Linked DNA regions of Homo sapiens: region 2 is linked to region 1. Evidence: fine-mapped expression QTL. A gene starts in region 1. The other region holds a variant in brackets. All regions are shown on one strand. Distances are between the middles of the regions.

The links. PIP is the estimated chance that this variant, and not a neighbour inherited with it, causes the effect.
Region 2: its variant is fine-mapped to the expression of ZNNT1 in whole blood (TOPMed, PIP above 0.99). The same link has a PIP of 0.9 or more in lung and unexposed skin.

The regions. Positions count from the first base shown.
Region 1 is chr8:101,164,144-101,176,212 of GRCh38, reverse strand. ZNNT1 (ZNF706 neighboring transcript 1) reads left to right here and starts at 5,974. Exons shown (of 1, transcript NR_164368.1): 1 at 5,974-9,408. RefSeq lists enhancers at 8,733-8,932, 9,518-9,812.
Region 2 is chr8:101,191,827-101,203,895 of GRCh38, reverse strand. It overlaps ZNF706 (zinc finger protein 706), which reads left to right. Exons shown (of 4, transcript NM_016096.5): 2 at 2,153-2,289; 3 at 3,799-3,906; 4 at 4,657-6,844. The coding sequence starts at 2,155. The coding sequence ends at 3,894. Among named protein-coding and RNA genes, the nearest start is that of ZNF706, 7.8 kb to the left of the region's middle. The variant A/G (reference allele first, on the strand shown) is at 4,618.

The DNA.
Region 1 (12,069 bases):
TTCTGATGTGTGGCCAGGGTTGAGAACTACTGCTGTTTAAACTTTAGAAAAGCGTAACACTTTTAAAAGGTTCTATTCCATGTGATACCTCTTATCCTTTCACATCAACAAATAACCCCTACTTTCCATTTCTTCTTCATGAAAGATAGTGTTCTCATTTCTCAAAATTAGAAGGCATGAAACAAACATGGTTAAAAGAGAACACAATATAGTAGCTATACAAAATATATCTCTAGGCCCTAAAAATTTGCTTTTGGGGCACTGAAAAGATATGCAGATAAAATTGCGTAGCCATAAGTTCTTAAAGCTTATGATAAATGAGAGTGGCCAAAAGACAGGAATTGAGGAAATGTCAACCCAGTAGTCCAAAAGGTGACTCATGGACAATAAATACCAGCTGATAAAATCGAAGCTGTTTCCTGGGAAAAAATTATAGAATGCTTAATTAAAAAGATAATTTGTGAGACTTTAAAAAGGAATCAGGAAAAGTAGACTATTCCTGTTTGGGTACATTGAGGGGTGCTGGCAATGGAGTTTAACCCTACATCTGACAAAATCACTCCGAAATCCTCACATTATATGATGGATATGGTGGAGAAATGTAGACTGGGTTGTTACTCTGTTTAGGTGAATATACAGCTGCTTGAGCAACTACATTCAAACCTCATCGATAGTGGAATGATGTTTAACCTGGAGAGAGATCTCTTGTTCTCTTTCTTGTTCTGATATTCTTTGAAACCTATAGTTGTGAACCTCTTTATTCTAGAAGTGAATTTTAATGTAAAGAATTTTGTCCAAAGTAATGTTATACTCCAGCTCAGGAATGTACATATACATACACACAGGGGACTTCAAAAAGTTTGTAGAAAAATTGAAATAAAAGATAAAAATACGAAATAAAAATTTCTCAACATAAGCTCCATCAAGTTCAAGACACTCTTGTGAGCAATGATACTAGCCATCATTTAGTCCATCCCTAAAGAACTGAGGGACCTGGGAATTTAACAATGTCAGTGCAACCATTTCTTTCTTTTTCTTTCTTTTTTTTTTTTTTTTGCATTATTACTGAAGAAAAATGGGTGCCCTGTAAAGATTTGTTAAGATAAGAAATAAAAAGAAGTCAGAAGGTGCCAAATCAGGACTGTAAGGTGGATGCCTAACATGAAAACTCTCATAAAATTGCTCTTGTTTGATGAGAGGAATGAACAGGAGCATTGTCATGGTGGAGGAGGATTCTCAGGTGAAGGTTTCCTGGGTGTTTTTCTGCTAAGTCTTTGGCTAATGTTTTCAAAACACTCTCATAATAAGCAGATGTTATCATTCGTTGGCCCTACGGAAAATCAACAAGCAAAATGCCTTGACCATCCCAAAAAACTGTTGCCATGACCTTAGCTCTTGACTAGTATACTTTTGCTTTGACTGGAGCACTTAACACCTCTTGGTAGCCATTGCTTTGATTGTGCTTTGTCTTCAGGATTGTACTGGTAAAGCCATATTTCATCTCTTGTTACTTCAAAGAAATGCTTCAGGATCTTGATGTTACTTGTTTCCAATTTTCATTGAAAGCTCTGCTTTTGTCTGCAGATGATCTAGAAGCAATGGTTTTGGCATACATTGTGGGAAAGTTTGCTCAACTTTGATTTTTTCAGTCAGAATTGTGTAAGCTGAATCAATTGAGTTGTCTGTGGTGTTGACTATTGTTTCTGCTGTTAATTATCAGTCCTCTTTAACTAGGGCATGAAAAAGATGAATTTTTTCCTCACAAATTGATGTGGATGGCTTGCCACTATGGGCTTCATCTTCAACATCATCTCATCCCTTCTTAAAACGAGTTACCCATTTGTAAATTGCTGATTTCTTTGGGACATTATACTCCTAAAGTTTTCATAAAGCATCAGTGGTTTCACCATTCTTTCACTCAAGTGTCACCGTAAACTTGACACATTTGTTCTTGCTTCAATTTTAGCAAAATTCATGTTCCTCTCACAGGGGCTGTTTTCAAGCTGATGTCTTACCCTTCTGGGAGCCTCACACTAGATTCTGTTCAGACATGTTATAAAAAGTTAGTATGAGTTTATCTGGCAAAAAAAAAAAAAAAATTTGAATACATGCATAGTTTTCTCATAATATATATTTTCCATGAACTTTTGAAAACTTCTTGAGATATACACACAAGCCCAACATAGATTCTTCCACATTACTCTTTTCTAAAGCCTCTTTATCCCCATAATTCCATAAAATAATATATAACAGACTTGGCTTTGGCTTATTGGACTCTTAGTCCAACTTAGTTGTTTTTCAGCTTTAACTTTGGTGACTCATTTGTGCTCAGTTCTGATTCAGACAATGGAAAACTATTTTAGCAAGAGCTGAACTGATTTTTATTCCCCTGTTGATGTCCAAAGCTCAGCCCACCGTCATGCACTGTGCATTCACATTCTCTGTTTCTGCAAGCTTTGCTGGCCAATTTCACCAACGAACGTTGAATTGACCAAACATGTACTAAGTGCATTCTGCAGACATAACGGAGACTGAATTTTGGAGATCTTTGCTTCCCAAAGAATCCCCTGAAAAAAAAAATTTTTTTTTTACTTCTACTAAGTAGCCCAGTTTTCCAATCACATGAATTTTCTGGAATATTTTTGGAGAGAAGCAGATTTATTGAAGAGCTGTTCTTTTTTACCCCAGATATAGACAAAGTTAAATTTATTCTCTGAATATAAATCATCAGAGTAAGAAGGTAAGATTTAGTCAAGAAGATACATTTGTTGGACTATGGGTTCATCTGTGTGCAACAGAGACCTAAAGTTTCAATGGCTTAAGCAGTATTGAGGTTTATTTATCTTCCATGACAGCGTGAGAGTTTGCAGCCAAAGACTAGTATGGCGGGTCCATGGTGTCAAGGACTGCCAGGTATCTCCCATCTTATTGCTTCATTATCTCTAGGGGATGGCCCTCATCTGCATGGTCCAGGCAGGAAAGAGGAGGATAGGAATAACCCCACCCCAGAGGCTGCACCCAGCACTTCCCCTTACATACACACACACACACACACACACACACACACACACATTCCAGCTGCAAGGAAGGCTGGGAAATGTCTTTATTTTGTACAATCAGTAAAAACTGAGATTCTATCAATAAAGAAGGAGGGCAGACATTGGAGAAAAACTAGTAGACTTTCCAACATATTCCTGAAAAATTTTAAATTTCAGAAGGGGCTATAGGTGGGCCAGGCAGGAAAGAATCATTATCTCACCCAAAGAATGACATCGGGCTTCAAGTATCTAAGCCACCATCAAAAAGGCTGGTGCTCTTCCAGGTTTTTCTTTAAAGGGCATCTGTCAGGCTGGGGAGAACACTTCTCTAGGTGGCCTTGAGCCAGTATTATTGGCCCACTCAATCAGAGCTGCCCTGCAGCCTCGTTAGCACATCACAAGAACCCAGAGTGGAATTCTGGGATGGAAGAGCTGGACAGAAAGTGGAGAGAGAAGGTCCTCCCAGCGGCAAAGCTAATTAAAAGGAGAAACCTGTTTTCCACATGCACTCCTCAATATGCACACATGCTGCTTTCTTGTCATTACATGCCTCACTTGTCACCAAAGCATTTTCAATCAATTCCTGGGTGTTGTTCTTGTATCTTTAGATTTAGCGCATTCTTTCTTTAGTGCTCCTCCCTTTTATTCATCCAGCTGCTTAGAACAGTTTTCTTCAGCATTTAAACAAACCCACATACATTCCCCTCCCCCCATTTTCTTTTTTAAACAAAGCAAATGCTGCTTTCTTTTAACCGAAATAAAAGAGCCATAGACAATTCCATCTTTTAGGTCCACATGGCAGATCTCAAGTCAAGCATTCATTTTCTACCTGTGTGGAACTTTAATTAGTTTAAGTGGGAGGTCTGTGCCAAGAAACAGGCACCACATCACAGTTGGAATCTGCAGAGCAGATTGTTTTCTCTTAATAATGCTCTTTCAAACTCAATCCCGCTTGCAGTTTTGATACCAAAAACATGTGTGTTAAACAGCTACGAGTCGTTTCCGGGTCATTCGCATTAACCATGAGCTCTCCTGACAGTCTTGACCCATAACAGCAGACCTCTGTGTTTGAAGTGCTGTATAATTTACAAAGGACTGCACACACATCGTCACATGTCAGCTGCACACTTAGCCTGCTAGGAAATAATATCGCCCCCATTTTGGTGATGAAAAAATTGAGTCGTGGAATGGTTAAGTGACAGAATGAACTGAAACTGGATCCAGTCTGTCTGTGTTGCTAATGTAAGATGTTAAAGAACTGTCTATGGTTAAAAGAGAATGAGTATCTATTTTTAACAATGTGCTAAATGTTCTTTTCTTCTTTCCATGGTCCAAGATTGTCCTAAACTTTGATTTGATATAATTATTTTCCACAATCCTCTAAGTCAGGCTTTGAAATTCTTCTCTGCCTCTGGGTCTTAGTTTGCTTTGAGGTAAGGATGGCCAGTGTGGATCTTTCTTATATAATCTCTAGGTCTTATATTTTAGTTTCCTACCTGAAAATTTGTGATGCCACTTTTAATCTACGACGGTAAAGGAAAACAATTTCTCTTATATGCTATTTAAGAGTTAGGTATTTAAGATTAAAGGAACTATGTATAAATATCACTTATCCAGAAGTCTTCTGAATATTTCATTTCTCATGGAAATGCTGGATGTTTTTAAGCAACATTATCCATTATAAAACAATTCAAAAAGGGGGAAGAAAATCCTACAAAGATAACAAAAACTGTGAGGTTTTTTTTGTATGAAGTAGCCAATTTTCACAAAAAGTGCTGTTAGCGGTTTATAACACTGCTAGGAAATGTATTTTATATTAAAAATCGCTAACAGCACAGTCATTGTTTTCAAGATGCTTTAGAATGGGAAGAAATGTTCAATCTTTTTAACGTGTATCGGCATGTATAGGGTGTACTCTTTTAAAGAAAAATTTCAACTATTATAAAATCTAAGAAACTTTAAAACTGTGTCATTTATAATGTAAAATTAATGCAGCTGAGATTCAGTGGTTGACTCATAGCTCCCACATTCATCTTCAGTTCTCTTTAGCTCATATGGTTTTCTTTAAAAATTAGTGATATCAGCTAAATGGAACTATTTTCCACTCCTACCCACAGAGAAAAGTGCTTTTGTGAACATGTCAGCTCTGTTCCATCATTACATGCCATCATGCAGTGCAACAGAAGCAGGCTGGCTGTGCATACTTGATAACCAATATTAGTACAGATTTGAGAGCAAAATCCAAAGAAGATAATACTGTATTTCCATCTATTTATTTTATGCACATAAGCCACCTTTTTAGAACCAAGGAATTTTATAGCTAGACAAGATCTTGGAAGTCTTCCAATCTAGCCTCTTTATTTTGTACATATGGAAACTGAGGCACAAAGAGGTTCAGCAACTTCCCCAAGGTCACATAGCTGGTAGAGGTAGGCTGGGACTAGAACCCAGGTCTGTGTGACTCCAAAGTCTGTGCTCCTCCCACTATACTGCTTCACAGATAGGAGCTGATCTGCCTCAAATCTTCTGCCCCTTGGCCTTTCCACAACTCTGCATTGCTGCCATCTAACAGTGCCTTCCACTGGTGCCATGCTAAAGCTCGTTAGGAGGCAACTTAACATTGTTCTGTAAAAGCTCTACAGATGTAGGATGCTAGCTATCTGTTCTCCCCGGAAATCTTTTCAATTCAATTCTGCAAATAACTTAGGCTTTCCCAGACTAAGCAGTTCCTTCTCTCATTCCTGCAATTTGCTTTCCAGTTACCTTCTTCTGGACACATTCATTTCCAGTGCCCCTTCTGTTAAAATGGGCCCCACTAGAATCTCTGTTGCTGGGCACGGTGGCTCACGCCTGTAATCCCGGCACTTTGGGAGGCTGAGGCGGGTGGATCACCTGAGGTGGGGAGTTCAAGACCAGCCTGACCAACATGAAGAAACCCCATCTCTACTAAAAATACAAAATTAGGCAGACATGGTGGCACGTGCTTGTAATCCCACCTACTTGGGAGGCTAAGGCAGGAGAATCGCTTGAGCCCGGGAAGCTGAGGTTGTGGTGAGCCAAGATCGCTTCATTGCACTCTAGCCTGGACAACAAGAGCGAAACTCCGTCTCAAAAAGAAAAAAAAAATTGGCCCCACTCAAAATGGTACTCCTCCAAGTTGCTTTTTCATCCTTGTATTCCCCATGGTCATTCATCCCACTGCTGTCCTTCTGTCTCCAAGTCCTCTTTGCCTTGCTTCCTTCCCTCTCAACCCACAGCATCAGAGCAGTTTCTCCCCCAGCTGACCCTCTTTCCACTTTCAGTGCTCAATATTTTTTACTTTGCCTGTGGAAATGATCTCTTAACTGGTTTCCTTAAGTCCCTCCAGAAATGTTTTTCTAAACTCCAACAACTGTGCAAGGTCTAATTGCCATTGGTTTATCACCCACTGGACCCAGAAGCACCATCCTGGATTCTGCTTCTGCATACCCCTGTCAGCTCTGTGTCTTTAGGGACATCATTTAAACCTTCAGCTTCACTTTCTCCACTTATAGAATGAAGATGAGGAACAAGAACATCAATCTTTGAAATGATGCCAAGTATAAGCCTCTGTGTGTGTGTCTCCCCACTCCAATTTGTCCAACAGACTGCTTCCAAAGAAATCTTCCTAAAACACTGACCATCTTTTTTTTTTTTTTTTTTGGCTGCAAAATCTTTCATTTCCTCATCCCCTCACATAACTTCCAATCTTCTTGGCCTGGCACTAAGGACCTACTACAGACTGGCACTGAAATATCTTCCCTACCTTATCATTCCTTGTGCTTCTCCACAAGCCCACTCTTCCCCTTCATCATACATGTGCCGACCTTTCCTGTCTCTTTTACTTTGCAGCACCAAATGCTTTCTACTTTGTGGTCTAGGAGGAACACATGTCACTTTTGTAAGCTGCTCGAAAGCAGGGGCCACACCTTCATCCTTGTTTTCCACACAACACCAAGCACTTAGTAGACACCCAATAAATCATTGCTGAATGAATGTATTCAGCCTGGAATTGCACTAGGATTTTTTGGCCAACACATTGTATTCTTAACTGATACCAGACTTCCAATCAAATAAAATCCTTAAGCCTTTTTCATAGTCTTTAATTAAACTACTTCTCTTCCATTATTTCCCTTTGCCTACTTTTGAACTGATATTCAGAACTTTTCTGTTAATGTTTAATTTTCATCCATTATTCTTGTCTGTACAGATCTTTTTGATTTTTGACTCTCTTATCTAGTTTTTTTTTTTTTTTTTTGGCTTCCCGTTGTGTTATCCACAGGCACAATGGGTATATTGACTATCGTTCATTGAAGTTGTTGATACAAATGTTGAACAGGAGAAAAACCAGTAGCTTGCCAACTTGGCACCTCATTCTCTAGCTTGACAGTAATCTCTTATCTAGTAGTTTTTAGATATGGTTATTTAATCAAATATCACTAGCTTCTAATTTTGTTATAATTCATTCATGTATACAGACAATGAAGAATCATCTTTCTTCATTCAACACATTTATTGGGAACCAATCATTGTCCAAGGCAATATGCTAGGCATTGTGTAATAGAAAGCGATTAAGCTTTTACCCCTGTCCTCTTTGGCCTGCAAAGAGCAGGTAAGATTCATGCACAGACAAATGTAGTACCAGGTAAATAGTGAGGCCAAACACAAGAGGCAGGTCAAAGGGCTTTGGATTCAGAGGATGGAGAAGCTCTTTCTAGGCTGGTGAAATATTTGCAGAATGAGTAGGCTCATAAGTGGAGGTGAGGTACAGGCTAAGCTGCTGTAAGAAAGAGTCCAAAATGCAAAGGATTTACCACAATGCAGTTAATTTTTCTCACAACGGTCGAGGTAGGCAGGTGGTCCAAGTCCAGTTAATCAGCCCTCCTCAACACAAGGCTTCCCCTTGTAAGCTCAGGATGACCGCTCCAGTTCTCATCATCTCCCAGGCAGAAAAACGGGAGAAAGAGAACTAGACGTACCACCCAGTCATTTTAAGGACATAGCCAGGCCAGGTGCAGTGACTCACATCTGTAATCCAAGCACTTTGGGAGGTCGAGGCTGGAGGATAGCTTGAAGCCAGGAGTTTGAGACCAGCTTGGATAAGAAAGCAAGACCTTGTCTCTACAAAAAATTTAAAAATTAACCATGTGTGGTGGTGTGCACCTATAGTCCCAGCTACTCAGGAGGCTGAGGTGGAAGGATCACTTGAGCACAGGAGTTGGAGGATACAGTGAGCCATGATCACACCACCTCACTCCAGCCTGGGCAACATAGTGAGACCCCATCTCTTTAAAAAACAAAACAAAAAAACATCACCAGGAAGTTGCTTACATGTCTTCTATTCCTATAACATCGGCCTGAGCTTAGTCACATGGCCACACCCAGCAGAAAGAACTCTAGGAAATATGGTCTTATGCTAGGTAACCCCAAACCCAGCTAAAACTGTTGCTTTTGAAGAAGGGTGAAACAGACAATGTGGAGGAGAATTACCAGTCTGCCACAAAGAGAAAGAATTCTATGTGAGGAAAACGCTCTAGAAGAGGGAGCTGATTAATTAGTTATATCTCAGCCGAGAGGATGTTATGAGAAACACAGATTTGGGTTTAATAGAAAAACTTAGAACCCTTCAAGAAGGAATGGGCGGACTTGAGAGTGTCCTCCGCTTCTGAAAATGATCAAGAAAAATGGTAAGAATGTACACCTCAAGGGTGGATGGTAAAGGTCAGCCTTTAAGCCTCAATGGCGGTGTGGTTGTAGGTGGGGTGGGGGTGGAGGCCCCGAAGACAGGCAGACTACCACAGTAGCCCCGATGGAAGCAGTGAGAATGAACTGGAAGGAGCGGCTGTGGGAGCGACAACGTGATGAGAATAAACCCGGCTTGGCTCTGCCCTGTGCACACACAGGTGAGCTGTGTGCTCCCGGATGTGTCAGCTGGTATATGCGTCTGTCAGAAGGCAGCTGGGGAGCACTGTTAGCTCAGAGACTAAGAGGCAGACCCAGGAAGCCCTTCTTTGCATTGGTCAGGGTTTGCTGCATTTTCCCAAGCCCAGGAAATGGAACCCAGTTCTTCTTCTTTCTGTGTAAAATAATAAGCATCACAATAGGCTGTGCTCATGAGAACGCATTTTGTTTCCACAGAAATGTTTTTTCTCACTCTGTCCTGATTTTGATTTCTGTTAAACTCAGTAAACACATTACCAAATTTTAAAATAAGGTGACTTGTTTTCCCCAACTCACAGTTCACCAAAGGTATTTCATCTGTTTGTTCTGAAAATGCAGCTGCTGTCTAGATTTATGTGTGCTCTGACAAGAAATGTTTTGTGTAACAATAAAAATCATTTCCTTTGATGAATACTGTTGTTGCTTTGTGTTTTAAGAATGATATTTCATGTCTGTTCCATAGTAGCATTGCCCCCACTAAGCAAATTCTACAGGAGACCAGTTTGTGTTCCAGACCAAGGGAGCTGAAGCTTCTAACTCCTAACAGCCATGCAGGGCCTTGTCTAAAGAATCAGAGTCATAGGCAGCCATCTTTGTCAAGCAGATCCCTTGGTGGGGGGCGAACAGGAGGAGGCATGACTGGAGGTCCTCCAGTGGTGGCGCCCTCGCCCACATCCCTCTGTTGCACTCCTTAAATGCCCGGATGCTGCATAAAGGCTTTGGCCCTTCCTCTCAGGGCTTGTAAGCCACAAAATGATGTCACAGTGGGGAAGATGCTGAGGACATCAGTGAGAACCAGGAGCAGGCAGAGCCTGAACCCCAGCCCGGAAGGAAGGGGGAGGGAACAGAATACAGCTTTCTAGAAAGAGAGGAGAGGCTGAAGGCACAGCTAGGGAATACGCATGCACTTCCTTGGGCCTCAAGTGGGCCAGACTCGCGCCCGTGGAAGCTGTGTGACGGGGAGCAAAGAACACAGGCTTTGGAGGCAAGTCTCCTGAGTTCACTCTAGCTGTATGACCTTGGCCAAGGTTGTTAGCCTTTCTGTGCCTCAGTTTCCCTATATTCAAAATGAGCGTAAGAATAGTATCTATCTGCAGGCATTGTCTGGAGGATTAAGTGACTGGATATATCTGAGACAGAGGCTGTCAGTAATCCTACACTACCCTCTTCCTTCTTTTTCTATAGTAATAGACTCCCAGTTTTCAGCTGTGCCAATGGCTGCCCAGGATAAAGACTCTACTTCCCAGCCTCCCTTGCAACTATGTGTGGCTGTATAACTGTGCCTGGCCAATGAATTATAAGCAGATGCTATCTGGCAGCTACCTGGGAAGGGCAGCTGGCATGTACTCTTTTTTTTTTTTTTTTTTTTTTGAGACAGTCTTGCTTGTCACCCAGGCTAGAGTGCAGTGGCACAGTCTCAGCTCACTGCAACCTCTGCCTCCTGGGTTCAAGCGATTCTTATGCCTCAGTCTCCTGAATAGCTGGGCTTACATACATGTGCCACCACGCCCTGCTAATTTTTGTATTTTCAGTAGAGACAGGGTTTCACCATCTTGGCCAGGCTGGTTTCAAACTCCTGACCTTAAGTGATCTGCCCACCTCGGCCTCTCAAAGTGCTGGGATTACAGGCGTGAGCCGCCACACCAGTTTGGTATATACTCTACTCCCTTTTTTTCTTTGCACCGTCTAGTCTGCTGTCTGGAAGGTGGATGTGATGTCTGATGTTCTAGTTGCTTTTTTGGCCTGTGGGGATGAGGACAACACCCTAAGAATGAGGAACTGTGTCCCTGAAGAAGGAACCTGTGTCCCTGAAGACTTTATGAGTAAAGCCACTATACCAGTCCTTGGCTACTTATTTCTGTGCTTTTACATGAGAGAGAGAAAATAGCTATCTTATTTAAGCCACTGTTATTTGGGCTCCTTATTACTCATGGTTGAACCTAATCTTAACCTACACCATGTGCAGAACACTTAAAGTGATGGCTGGCACACAATAAGCAATTCCGTAAGTGTTGGATAAGTGTTGTTATTTTGTGTCAAATAATGGATAAGGTGAAGCCAAATTATGAAAGGGCTTGCAAATCAAGGAGAAAAGTTTGCCCTTGATGCAAGGCGAAGCTTCTATCTGTTGCTTCTAAAATATGATTTGAGAAAAATTAAAGTGACCCATAATCACTAGGACCATCCCAAAAAGATAAAAGGCAAGAGCTATGAAAAGCAGGGGAAATAATTTTACCTGACCCTAGGCTAAGAATAGTTATTACAATTGTGCATAAAATATAGCTCTGGGCCGGGCGCAGTGGCTCACGCCTGTAATCCCAGCACTTTGGGAGGCCAAGGCGGGCAGATCCCCTGAGGTTGGGAGGTCAAGACCAGCCTGACCTACATGGAGAAACCCCGTCTCTACTAAAAATACAAAATTAGCCAGGCGTGGTGGCGCATGCGTGTAATCCCAGCTACTCGGGAGGCTGAGGCAAGAGAATTGCTTGAACCCAGGAGGCAGAGGTTGTGGTGAGCTAACACCATTGCACTCCAGCCTGGGCAACAAGAGCTGAAACTCTTTTTTTGAAACTCCATCTCAAAAAAAAAAAAAAAAAAAAAAAAAAAATATATATATATATATATATATATATATATCTCTGAATTGCTTGGCTGTTTTGGCTCTAAAAGATGGAAGCATTTTCAGGCTTTCAAGCAGAGTTTTCCTGTTGTGCAAGGACTTTGTAAGGCAGTTCATGCTAGCACTTCTGTGTAGAAAAGATTGGATGGGGAAGAAATAAGATTCCATTAAGGAAGCCATTGCAAGAACCCAACTATGAAGTGATGAAGGGTGATGATGGTGCAATGGAAATCAGGGAAGAGATACGGAAGATGATTCAAAGGAGCTTCAGAGGACCTGACAAGGATTAGCGATGGGGATAAAGGAAATGCAAATGTAAAAAGTGATTACAGTTTCACATGTGAGCAATTATCGTAGTCAGATGTCCGCTACTATAATGCTATGTAACAAACAATCGCATAATCTCAGTCCATTACTACAATAAATATTTATTGCTTATGGGTGTGCAGGTTG
Region 2 (12,069 bases), 28 kb before region 1:
ATAGGTTTGTAAGCTTGCGGTAACATCGGACTTAAATACACTTTTAAAAAAAATGTGCCATTTGGCTTAGAATTAATAATTTTTTTTAAAGCAAAAATGGAAGCTTAGTCTTCAAGGACTGATAACAGCTGGTAATATTTACCATTGTTTGGTGGGAATGGGGTTCTCATATTAGGCTAGCACGCTAAACATTTTCAATTACGAAAATGTATTAGGCTCGTGTGCTACCCTAATATAAAAACCCCATATTTCCTCAGTTGAAATAGTCAGCTGACTATCCTGAAAAGCATTGACCCTCTTTTATATTTTATCTGACTTTCAGTTCATTTTTTTAATGCTAGTGGGAACTTCTCCAATCAGTGTATTTTTTTAGTTTCCTTTTTTGGGGAACAGGAGGAGCTCAGTAATTTTTATGAAATGCTTTGACCTCATATCCATTAACTAATTATGGTCCTAGTCAGAAGAAGCTAGCACCCTTCCCTGGTGAAGTTGATACAAATCCATTGTATGTTCCTGTCCTGCAATGATTTACATTCAGTTACAGTACTAGTCAAAACTATATATATATGAATTCTACTTAGGATCCAATTTTGATATATTTAAAAAGCAATTGAGACTCATGATAGACTTTATGAGCAGGTTTAACTTGTGTGGTCGAATAAAAGCCTTTAATTTAAATGGAAAAGTAAAAGTAACTTTTTTCAGTGACTTGATTTTTTTTTTTGTTTTAATCCATTTGGGTTCACGTCAGATCATCGGTAACAAAAAGTGGTATCTTTCAGCTTTGTAAAAGAACCCTCTTAACCAAGTTCATTCCCTCAAATGGGAACTAACGTCTAGAGAGCAAAGAAACTTCTGGAATTAGTGGCTTGCTGATAATCTCATTTTATAATTTGTTCAGCAATCCAGCAAGACCAACTTTTTAAAAAAATTAATAACAGTAGTTTTATGAAAACTAAGTAAGAAAACAGTTTCCACCTATTTCTGAGGTCTCCTTTAGAAGGAGTAACAGACAGCTTTTATTTCTCTTAAAGTTATAAAAATCACAATCGCAAGTCACAATGAATACTGGGAAGGGAAATTACTTTTGCAGAGTGATCAAGTAAATGATAGCGGGGGCTAAACTTTTTTAGTAAACTTGTGAAGATTACATACAGTAAAGTGCATAAATCTTGAGTGTACAATTCAATGAATTTTTATAAGTAAACACACTTGATTCAAGAACATTTTCAGGACCCCATAAGTCCCCTTCATGTCCTGTCTTCCCAGTCATTACCCATAACCCCCAAGGTGACCCCTTTCACTATAGATTAGCTTTGCCTGTTTTGAACTTTAAATAATGTATATTCCCCACAACTGGCTTCTTTCCTTTAACATTGAGATACAACCAAGTTGTTACTTGTAACAATTTTTTGTTTGTGTGTTTGTTTATTTATTTTTGAGACCAGAGTCTCACTGTCGCCCAGGCTGCAGTGCAGTGGTGCCATCACGCGTCACTGCAACCTCTGCCTCCCGGATTCAAGCAATTCTCCACCTCAGCCTCCCAAGTAGCTGGAATTACAGGTGCCTACCACCATGCCTGCCTAATTTTTTTTTTTTTTTTTTTTTTTTGTATTTTTAGTAGAGACAGGGTTTCACCATCTTGGCCAGGCTGGTCTTGAACTCCTGACCTCATGATCCACCCGCCTTGGCTTTCCAAAGTGCTGGGATTACAGGCGTGAGCCACCGCGCCTGGCCACAATTTTTTAAATGCTGGGTAGTATTCCGTTGTATAAATACTATAAAAATATGTATACAAGTTGTGCATCCGTGTTACTATTGATGGGCATTCAGATTTTTTCCAGTTTTGGAATGGGCACTCAGAACATTTTGTACATGTCTTGGTGTACATAACATTTGCATTTCTATTGGGTATATACCAAGAGTGGAATTGCTGGCTCATAGAATAAACAGCTACCAACTAGTTTTCCACAGGGTTGTGTCAATTGATACTTTTGTAGCATTTATATGTGGGAATTTTAATACCTATAAATTTTTATTTGCCAGATATTTCTATAAAACTTAAGGCTTCAATTCTAAGAACGTTCTTATGCTTTGATTACTCTGTATTAGAGTAAATAAGCCACTCTAATGCTTCACCTTCTGTTTTTAGATATGGCTCGTGGACAGCAGAAAATTCAGTCTCAGCAGAAAAATGCCAAAAAGCAAGCTGGACAAAAGAAGAAACAAGGACATGACCAAAAGGCTGCTGCCAAAGCTGCCTTAATATATACCTGCACTGTCTGTAGGGTAAGGGGAATTGAATTGAAAGATACAGCTCTCCCGTGGGCAGTTTTGGCTTGAATAGATTAAAATTTTGAAACCATGGCAAAATAGATGCTTTACATGAAATAGTAGGTTTGAGAGCTGATTATTTTAGGTATCTATTTTCATTCACCCTTTAAACAAATATTTTTTGAATGGCTCCTGTGGCCAGGCAAAAATCTCTAGGTGCTGGGAAAACAGAGTGAACAAAACAAAATTGCTTTCCTCATATAAAATAAAGATGTCTTCATAAGGGCATATAATACACTTCACTAGCACATCATATAACTCTACACTCTTAGAGCTATATAATATGCTAGTAAGTATACCTCTAGTTATATAATTGGTTTTTTCTTCACTAAATTTATAATTAGGATGTCTGTAAAACCATATAGAGTATAATCACGTTGAGAGCTTTTCCTAGAATTAATGTGTTGTATTAGATTTGAAGAACTGTAATAATAACAGCTACTTTTGAGTGCTTACCATATGCCACACATAGAGCCAGGTGTTTTACATGTATTCACCTATTTAATCCACATAACAACCCTATAAGATAAAGTACTTTTATTGTTCTCATTTTACAGAAGAGTAAACTGACTAATGGAAATTAAACAATTTGTGTGGGGTCTCCCAGCTGGTTAGTAGAAGAGCTGGAATCTGAACTCAGGCAGTTCAGCTCCAGAGTCCACCCTCTGGACCACTACTGTACTGCCTCTCAAAGAAGTACTTCTGAAATTCCAAATCAGAGCCTCTTGCCTGTTTGTTTAAGCTCATTACCCTTGAAGTTAGTGAGTGGCAGTACCAAAGGAAACCATAGTGGAGTTAGTACACTACATATACACTCAAAATAATGAAATTGAGCAGCTTGTGATTGTTTGGAAAGAGGCAGGGTGCAAATTTTAATCAACTAGTAATGAAGAAATACCTTAATCTAAATGTGGTAGAGTAGTTACATATATTTAAAAACTCAAAACCACAGACTTTTATTTCATATTTTGTGTAATTTAATGGGTTAAGAATAAATAATTGAAGGTTCTTGCCAAGGGAAGTCAGTATAGTATAGTATTTGAGAGGTCACATATCTAGTACTAAGTTAAAATAAGGTCTTGGGCAAATTAAACTCTGGGTTTTAGTTTCCTTATCAGGTAAAATGATGCTAGTAGGAGCTAAAGATTACTTTGAAGGTTCTGTGGGAATTAAGGTAACATGCTTAATATAATAAGGGTTCAGTAAATGTTACCTATTGTTTGCTGTTAATCAGATAAGCAGAATACATTCTATGTGACCTACCTTTCTTTATAGGTGAAATGTGGGAACGTTAGGAATTTCTTTACCACAAAGTCCCTCTTCATATGCCAGTCACTAAGTTGTAGGAATTTAAAGGTGTTTTTGGGATAATTGTCTATACTGAGAAGGTTCAGGATTCTAAAAAGTAACACATTTTTATTTTATAAATAAAGTCTAGCTCTCTTTTGCACAATTTTTTGTTAGACACAAATGCCAGACCCTAAGACCTTCAAGCAGCACTTTGAGAGCAAGCATCCTAAGACTCCACTTCCTCCAGAATTAGCTGATGTTCAGGCATAAGGTTGTTTACAGGTAACTCACCTCTTTTTCTATTGGTTTGTTAATAACAGGGTTGTATACAAGACCAAAACTGTCTTCACTTATTGTGAAATTAATTTCTGCCTTCTGAGATTTTATTGCTTCCCCTTTTTAAGTTAATGTGTAACTGAAAAGTCCCTTTTTCTCAGACTATTTCCTTTCAATGCCTTTGAAACATCCAAATTTTTACTACTGTAGCCAAAAATGGGGAGATGAGTACATGCTAGCCATCTCTGATCAAAGAATGGAAGGAACTTATCAGTTTAAAGAAAATAGTGATTACAAAGTTATTTGAGAGTTTCCCTCTAAAAACAATGTACACCAATGTTCCTGAGCACCTCTTTACAATTAGTTTACTTATAGTACTTAGCAGAGGTTCTTTTTTTTCTCCCCCAACCTATCCCCTTAGCAAAGCTTCTGAGTATTAAAATATAGGGCAAAATGTAGATGTAGATATGTGCTATATAAATTTGTTTATAAATTTGTTGGTTGAAAGTTATCACTTTACACATTACATTTGGTTGGATTTTTTCCCCCTAAATAGTGGAGTTGGTGGTGGGTGTGTTGTGTGTTTCAGAATTCTTTCTTTTTAAAATAAATTCTTCAGAGTTCTGTATATAAAGTCGAGTTGACAAGTTTACCAGATATTATCTTCATAGTGTTTCTTCTTAGTTATTTGAAATGCATGTAAGTTGCATTTGTGCA[A/G]TGGTAACATTCATTGAAAATTTTGCTTATGTTTTATAGGTGAATTCATGACACCTTTGACTCTTCTACTGTCTCAGACCTTAGGTAACATACCTGCAGCTGCTTTTCTAACAAACTGTTGATCAGCAAAAATAAAGGGGCTACAGAAACACTCATTTTTATGCTGTTCCCTCTTGGGCTTCATGCAAAGACAATTCTGTGTAAATGTACAGTTGACTCTGATTTGGAAATATGAAAATCAGTCCATCCTTGTTATAAAAAATTTTTTTACAATTGTAATTATATTGATGTTCATATTGTGTAAAATAACTCATTTAATAAAATAGTACTTTGATTTACGACATCACAGGATAAATGGTTTTAGAAATTCTGTTCTAACTTTCCACATTATTTGCCTTATAAAAATCTAATGAATTCATCAGCTAGAATTGCAAGTGCAATTCTTATATCCCTTTCTCTGCTCAGTGGCAGGTTCCTCAGTTAAACTAGAGCAGACTGATTCATTAAAATTGTGCATACGATTTTATGGGCAGCTGATGATCTAGGTGAAAAATGACTTATCTGCTGCCTTAGTATATTGCGGTTATGTGTCATTGTACCCCTCTGATCATTTCCTGTGTTTGAGTTGGAATATTTAAAATTGCAGTATGACCTGGCTCTAACTGCCAGTCAGGTGTACCCTGTAGATAACTGATAGCTTCCTAAAAGCGGTTGGATTGTCAGTGAGCCCTTGTGAAAGGTTAGGTTCTAATGTATATGCCGTAATGAAATAATCATTAAGCCTATTGTTTAATGCAAAATATGGAACAAATGTGAACTGGTAAAGGTCGATCTTGATACTATATTCTTTGAAAATTCTTGAAGTTCTTTAATTTGAAATTGAAACATTAATTTTTGAGGTTTTTGGAAGTTACTATTTGGCCATTTTTACAAATGGATTTTGCATTAACAGGAAGATTGGAATGACTTGTGGCTGGATTAATTCCCAGAACCCTCTCCCTCCTTTCTTTTCTAAGTGAGTTGTTGATTTTAGGAGTTTGCTTTGTGCTGTTACCTAAAATCAGAGACTGGTGTACAGTATGACTTCCATCTGAACTTGAAAAGTATTAAAATGGGTCAATATTCACATTCTTTTAGATCTCAGGATGGGAAAATGGGTTTGTTCAGATGGATATGGTAAATCTTACCCAATTAAGGAAGGCTAATTTTAGAGTTCTTCTAATTTGCTTGTGTCAACTCTTAACTTGTAAAACTGCTGTTAACTCGGTTTAAATTTTTAAATTAATATAATAGAAAGAACACTAAAATACTTACTGGTAACTGCTTAGAGCCATTTATCTGATCCTGTGGATTACAGAATGCATTCCCTCTTCTGCTGTAGCTTATCATTGCTTTGTTTTGTAGCTCTGCATATTTTGCCCACCTTGTCTTCCCTGTAAGTTTAAGACGTTTCCAAGGAAAAGCTTCAGGGCTGATAGTTTCTTAGCAATTCCTATTCTTATGCCCTTACTTTAAAATAGTCCTTTTATTTTGTGTATTTTATTTCCTAAGTTTCAGATGTAATATCTGTTGTTTCCTAACATGTCGATTACCAGAACGTTAGAATTTTACCTAATTTCTTGTGGATATTGCAGAAGTTCTGGTTAAATCACAACTTAAAAGTTTTTAAAAGTGCTTTGAGCATATGTATATGTTTAGTGACAAATCATATAAAACCATTCACAAGTTTTGGTTTTTTTTTTTTCGTTTGTTTTAGTGACTAATTCAGGATGAAAGTTTTTTTGTTCTTGTATTTAACCCTTTTTTATAAGCAGCTGAAGACACCATATTTAACACTATATCTCAGTGATAGGGAAATAGCTGCATTGATCTTACATGAGCATAATCATCCTTATACTTCATGAGGGGATTATTAGTACAATCCCCATTTTACTGTGTTTGAGTTAAAAACCAAACATCCCTGTAATTTAATTTGAAGATTCTTTAACAGATTGCAGCAAAGTTCATTATAAAACTGTTATGGTGTCTTCAAAGACTTGATAAAATAACACTGAGAGAGAATTGGTCCATTTGTATGCTGTATTTCTATTACTTGCCAAAAGGAATGGGGTTAAGATTAAACTTGTTTCCATTCTCTTCACATGGATATTCATCCCCATGTTTAACTGACACACTGGGGGCTCAGTTGTGTGCTGTAATGTCTTATTAAAGAAGATATTAAAGAAAACTAAACTAGTCTAATTTCTTCTACATTTTAAGAGGTTTTTATATTCCCACTTTTTTTTTTCTCCTTTCTGAGCTTAGAATTGGCTCTTAAGTATAGGTTGGTAGATTTGAGGGTAGCAAGAGATTTCTTTCATTTCTCGTTTTCCCTGCAGTCTTTCCCTTTTTGAGGTCTGTAGAATACTTGGGTGGAAAAAAACTTGTCATTTTGAAACCTTACTGTATAGAATAAGTGTGAATTGTTGGAAAGGGGGAAGTGATTGGCTATTAACATAAAAATACAATTATGAAAAATACTTAGGTCAGTTAATTGAATTGGATGGGTAAGTCCTTGATGATATTGTAAGATTTGAAGTTTTAGTTTTATATTAAAGATACTATATAGGTAATTAATGACATCATAATTCAAACCTGAGATGCAGCATAAGATAGAATTTATCAACATTACTATTTTACCTAGGAAAACCCATGTTTTTAATTTTCATTAATATATGTAATGTGGCCAGGTGCAGTGGCTCACGCCTGTAATCGCAGCACTTTGGGAGGCTGAGGTGGATGGATCACTTGAGGTCAGGAGTTCGAGACCAGCCTGGCCAACATGGCAAGACCCCATCTCTACTAAAAATACAAAAATTAGCGGGGCCTAGTAGCACATGCTTATAATCCCAGCTACTCAGGAAGCTCAGGCAGGAGAATGGCTTGAACCCGGGAGGCGGAGGTTACAGTGAGCCAAGATCTTACCATTGCACTTCAGCCTGGGCAACAGAGCGAGACTCACTCTCTCTCTCTCTCTCTCTCTCTCTCTCTCTCCATATATATATATATATAATATACTGTACCTATTTTTAAATGTGGATAAAGGCCTTTTTCTATAACACAGTGATCAAACACAGTCCAAACTATAACTGAAATACTATATTTAAACCACCCAGTCTGAATTAATTCATTTGTACTAGATTTCTGGTTTTTTGGAAAGTGTTTGGTTTAGTTTTGGTCAGAGTACTTTTTTGGTCATGTACTTTTTAACAGTATATGGCAATGAAGATCAACACCAGGGAGTTGTGTTTACTGTGACTTCACATTCTGAAATAGTTTAGGCTACCTTAATTTTATTTATTGTAAAAGTTTCAGAAAAATCTTAAGAGCCTTCAGTTTGTAGGTTTAATGAAAACATCTGTCTACTTAACAAAGAAAATAGACTTTTTTAAATAAAAGTTCAACCTGTCATTTTTAATTGTAGATTGCCATGTTAAATTGAAAATATTTTTTATTTTAAATGTTGTTTTGATAAGTTTTTTTTACTGAGGTATCCTTCTTTTTTTTTTTTTTGAATAGCCATTTTTTAGCTTCTATTCTTTGAATACCGTATGGCTCCAAATTTAAAATCTGCACATTCGGAGACAGACTTTGGTCATTTCTTTATATTCACATGGGAATATCTTCAGTATGAAGTAATTGTTAATTCTGTCATTAACTAATATTATTTGAGGGTTGTAGGGAGGAAGAATATCTTTATCCCAGATCTTTCTAGGATGAACTCTTTGAGAAGTTTAAGTCACTAAGGTATTTATTGAAAATCATATATGTGAAGTTGCATTGTGAGCTGTAAAGTATTATATAAAAGCAATGTATTATACAAAGAAATATAGCAAAGTTCCCTAATCTTTGGAAATTCAGATGCATTCTGGAGATAATACATATATTTATTTACATAATTTTAGGCTATATGGCCAAGTGCTTGGTGTGTTTTATAGACAATAACTTAATGAGGTATATGTACATGTGTGCGTTTATGTGTATATAGGATGGCTTTGGGTTGAAGAGGGCAGTCTGTGCCTGGAAGTATGGGGAGTCAGCTGAGGGAGGAGTAGGAAGGAATAGGGAAATCAAGGTGTGGGTGGCTGATTGAGCAAAAGTACATAAAGTTTCTTTGAGAGAAAGTGAGTAGGCAAGCCCGAGCACAAGGCTTGTGAATGAGAGCCTTTGATCCCGTGGATGAGAGTGGGGAGAATCGTTAGAATGGGACCAGATTGTGCAATGCGTGCACACTGCAGAAAATTGTTCAAATTACTCCTGACACTGGGGACTCTTTCAGGGTTTGGGAACGGGAGTGACATGATGAAAGTATGTCAGGAAGATTTATATTAATGAAATACTGTGTCGATACTGGTTTGATGGAGATCTTCTTACAACCTCTTGTATGTTTCTCTATTTAACAGTTTACTATCATAATACAACTTTTGGTTATTCTAGGTTATTATGAATATAGATTAATGGGCAAGAATTTTGCTGTGCTCTAATGCAGTGATACTACTAATGCCCAAAAAGCTGTATTTAGGGATGTTTGTCCCTGCACTAAATAACCCCAGACTATAGTGTGGCTATACACGACATTTCTTGTCTTCTACTTCACTATAAAAGTAACACATTTTGAAATATATCTCATATATAAAAATGTGAAGACTGTGGTAAGGTTGGATTTTACAAATTGACCAGTACAAAACATTTTGAGGAATAGTATCCATGTCTGTCTCTCTCTCTCTCTCTCATTCTTACCACATAGATTTTTTTAAATTAATGCATGTTTTTGAATTTTGTAGTCACTTTTTTCATATTATGTCTTTGTACTCTGCCATTTCATTTAACAACATAACAGGTGGGTTTTTCGTGTTATAAACTGTGCTAAGTGGAATTTTTGTGGCTGCATAATGATCCATTGGGTAGATTACCTGTAGTTTTTTTTAACCATTTTCCTGTTGTAGGACATTTAGGTTTTCTCTTATTTGTGCAGAAGGCTTCATTTCTACATTTAGAATTACACATCATAAAACTTTAAAGCTCTTCTGAAAAGTGTACAATACTTTATTAAAATAGCAAATGAGAGAGAACCAGAGTTGCAGACCGTATAGTATATAGGACCAGGCAATACTTGACCAATGATGTTTTGCATGTTACTGCATTACCTTTGTTTGAATACTAGCACTTTTTCCTGAATTTGGTAGGTTAACCCTTGTATATTTCCTTGATTTCTAGTGGAGCAGGAATATTTTAACTGCATTTGTTAGCCAGATACAGTTACTATTTTGTGAATTGTCCATTGCCCATTTATTTGTTGGGGCCTTCTGACTATATTCAATCTGCTATCCACAGTAAACTTGGAACAACTGAGAGTTGCCAGGAAACACCAGATAACTAGAGTTATGAAACCTGTAACTTATTTTACACAGAGAACAAAATTGTAGGCTCTGTCTGAACCACTTGCTGGAAGCCTTAACTATCAGATAAAGTATAAATCCACAGTTTGCATTTAAGGCATATTTTTTATTCAAGACTATTGAAATATGTTTTTTATTGTTACCTGACTACTATGAAGAAATAGTATTTTTATTAGATTAAGTCAGTTTAGTAAGTTACAGTAACAAAATAACCTTTCATGTTTGGGATCTGTCTTTTATTAGGTTCTATTATTTAATATTTATGTATGCGGATTTTCATAGTAACAAAATAGACTGTATTTAAGCCTTGCTTTGAATAGCCAGGAACATTTCTGATAGCAACAGAGTTTCTTACTTAAATAGGATAGAAAATGGCCAAACATAAGAATTTAAAGCTGTAGTCGAATGACCCAGTGAGAAAAATGGAAAACACCTAAGTTCAAATCTGGCTCTGCTTTTTCCTTTCTCATTTTGGACAGGTTACTTCACCTTTCTGAGTTGCATTATCTTTAGTCACCTTATAAAATGCAGGAACTGGCCAGGTGTGGTGGCACATACCTGTAATCCCAGCACTTTGGGAGGCCGAGGCGGGTGGATCACGAGGTCAGGAGTTCAAGACCAGCCTGGCCAAGATGGTGAAACCCAGTCTCTACTAAAAATACAAAAATTAGCCAGGTGTGGTGGCAGGCGCCTGTAATCCCAGCTACTTGGGAGGCTGAGGCAGAGAATTCCTTGAACCTGGGAGGCAGAGGTTGCAGTGAGCTGAGATCGTGCCACTACGCTCCAGCCTGGGCAACAGAGTGAGACTCTGTCTCAAAAAAAAAAAAAAAAAAATACAGAAACTAATACCTCCCTCAAATGATTGTTTTAAGTTAACAAGCAAATGAAATAATGAGTATAAACACCACCTGTGCAATCATAAATGCTCAATAGCTGTTAGCTTTCTTCCCACTGTCTTCCTATCCCTCCTCCCTCTACTGAAATTAACACAGTGTGTCTTTACACATACCCTTCTCACATTTGCCCATTTCTGCTTGTGCTTTTTCGTAGGACTAAAATGCTCTCTCTTCTCCCCCACTCAACCCTGGTCTCTTGCTGTGGAAATGCTACTTACTCTTCAGGGCTCAACTCGAATGCTGATTTTTTTTTTTTTTTCCATGAACCTCAGCACTTAAATGTACTAATGTGGGAAAAGGAATATACAGTAATAAATATGAAAGAAGACTACAAACTATAAAAAAATAGTGTCAGGAGACTAAATTTTAGAAGGGCAAAAAGTTCCTGAAAAATAGTAAAGGAAGTTTATTTACTTGTTTTCAGTTAAGTAGTAATAACAAGGAATGAGTGTTAGCACTCCCTGAGCAACTCCTATTCATTTGCTGTGTATTTTGTAAAACTCTCATTGTGAAAATGAACCCAATATGATGAAATACTAAAAGGACATATGATTTCACTGGATTTTTACTTGGCTTTGATGAATTATGACTCAGAAGGCTATAGGAATTTGCAGAATTTGACATTAAGTCTGAACCAGTGTCAGTCTAGGAAAGTGATACGGACAGGAAGCTATCCAGAAGACTGGAGATAAGTAATTTGTGTCTTGATTTTCTAAAAAGCACAAAAGACAATATTGAAAATGCAGAATTGTAAGTGTACCCTTGGTCTCTAGGTAAATAAGTACGTTATCTTTTTACTGTGACTCTCCTTTTTCCTCAATTAGGCCTTGGACTAATTTCATGTGTAGTTTTATTTCTAGTCTTTTTCCCTTGTCACGTTTGTTTTCTTTGCGACAAGAGAAATTCTTCTAAAACACAGTTCAAGTCACAACCCTCTCCTCTGAAGCACTTAGGTGCTCTCCCTGGCCCACCAGATGAACACATACTCCTGGGTTGTAATTGACAGGTCCTCCACAGTCTGACCCCAGCATGTGCTTCCAGCCAGCCCCTTCTGCCATACTTGTTCCCATCCTCTTGCTGAGTGAATTACTTGCTGTTCTTTGAGTAACCCTCACTAT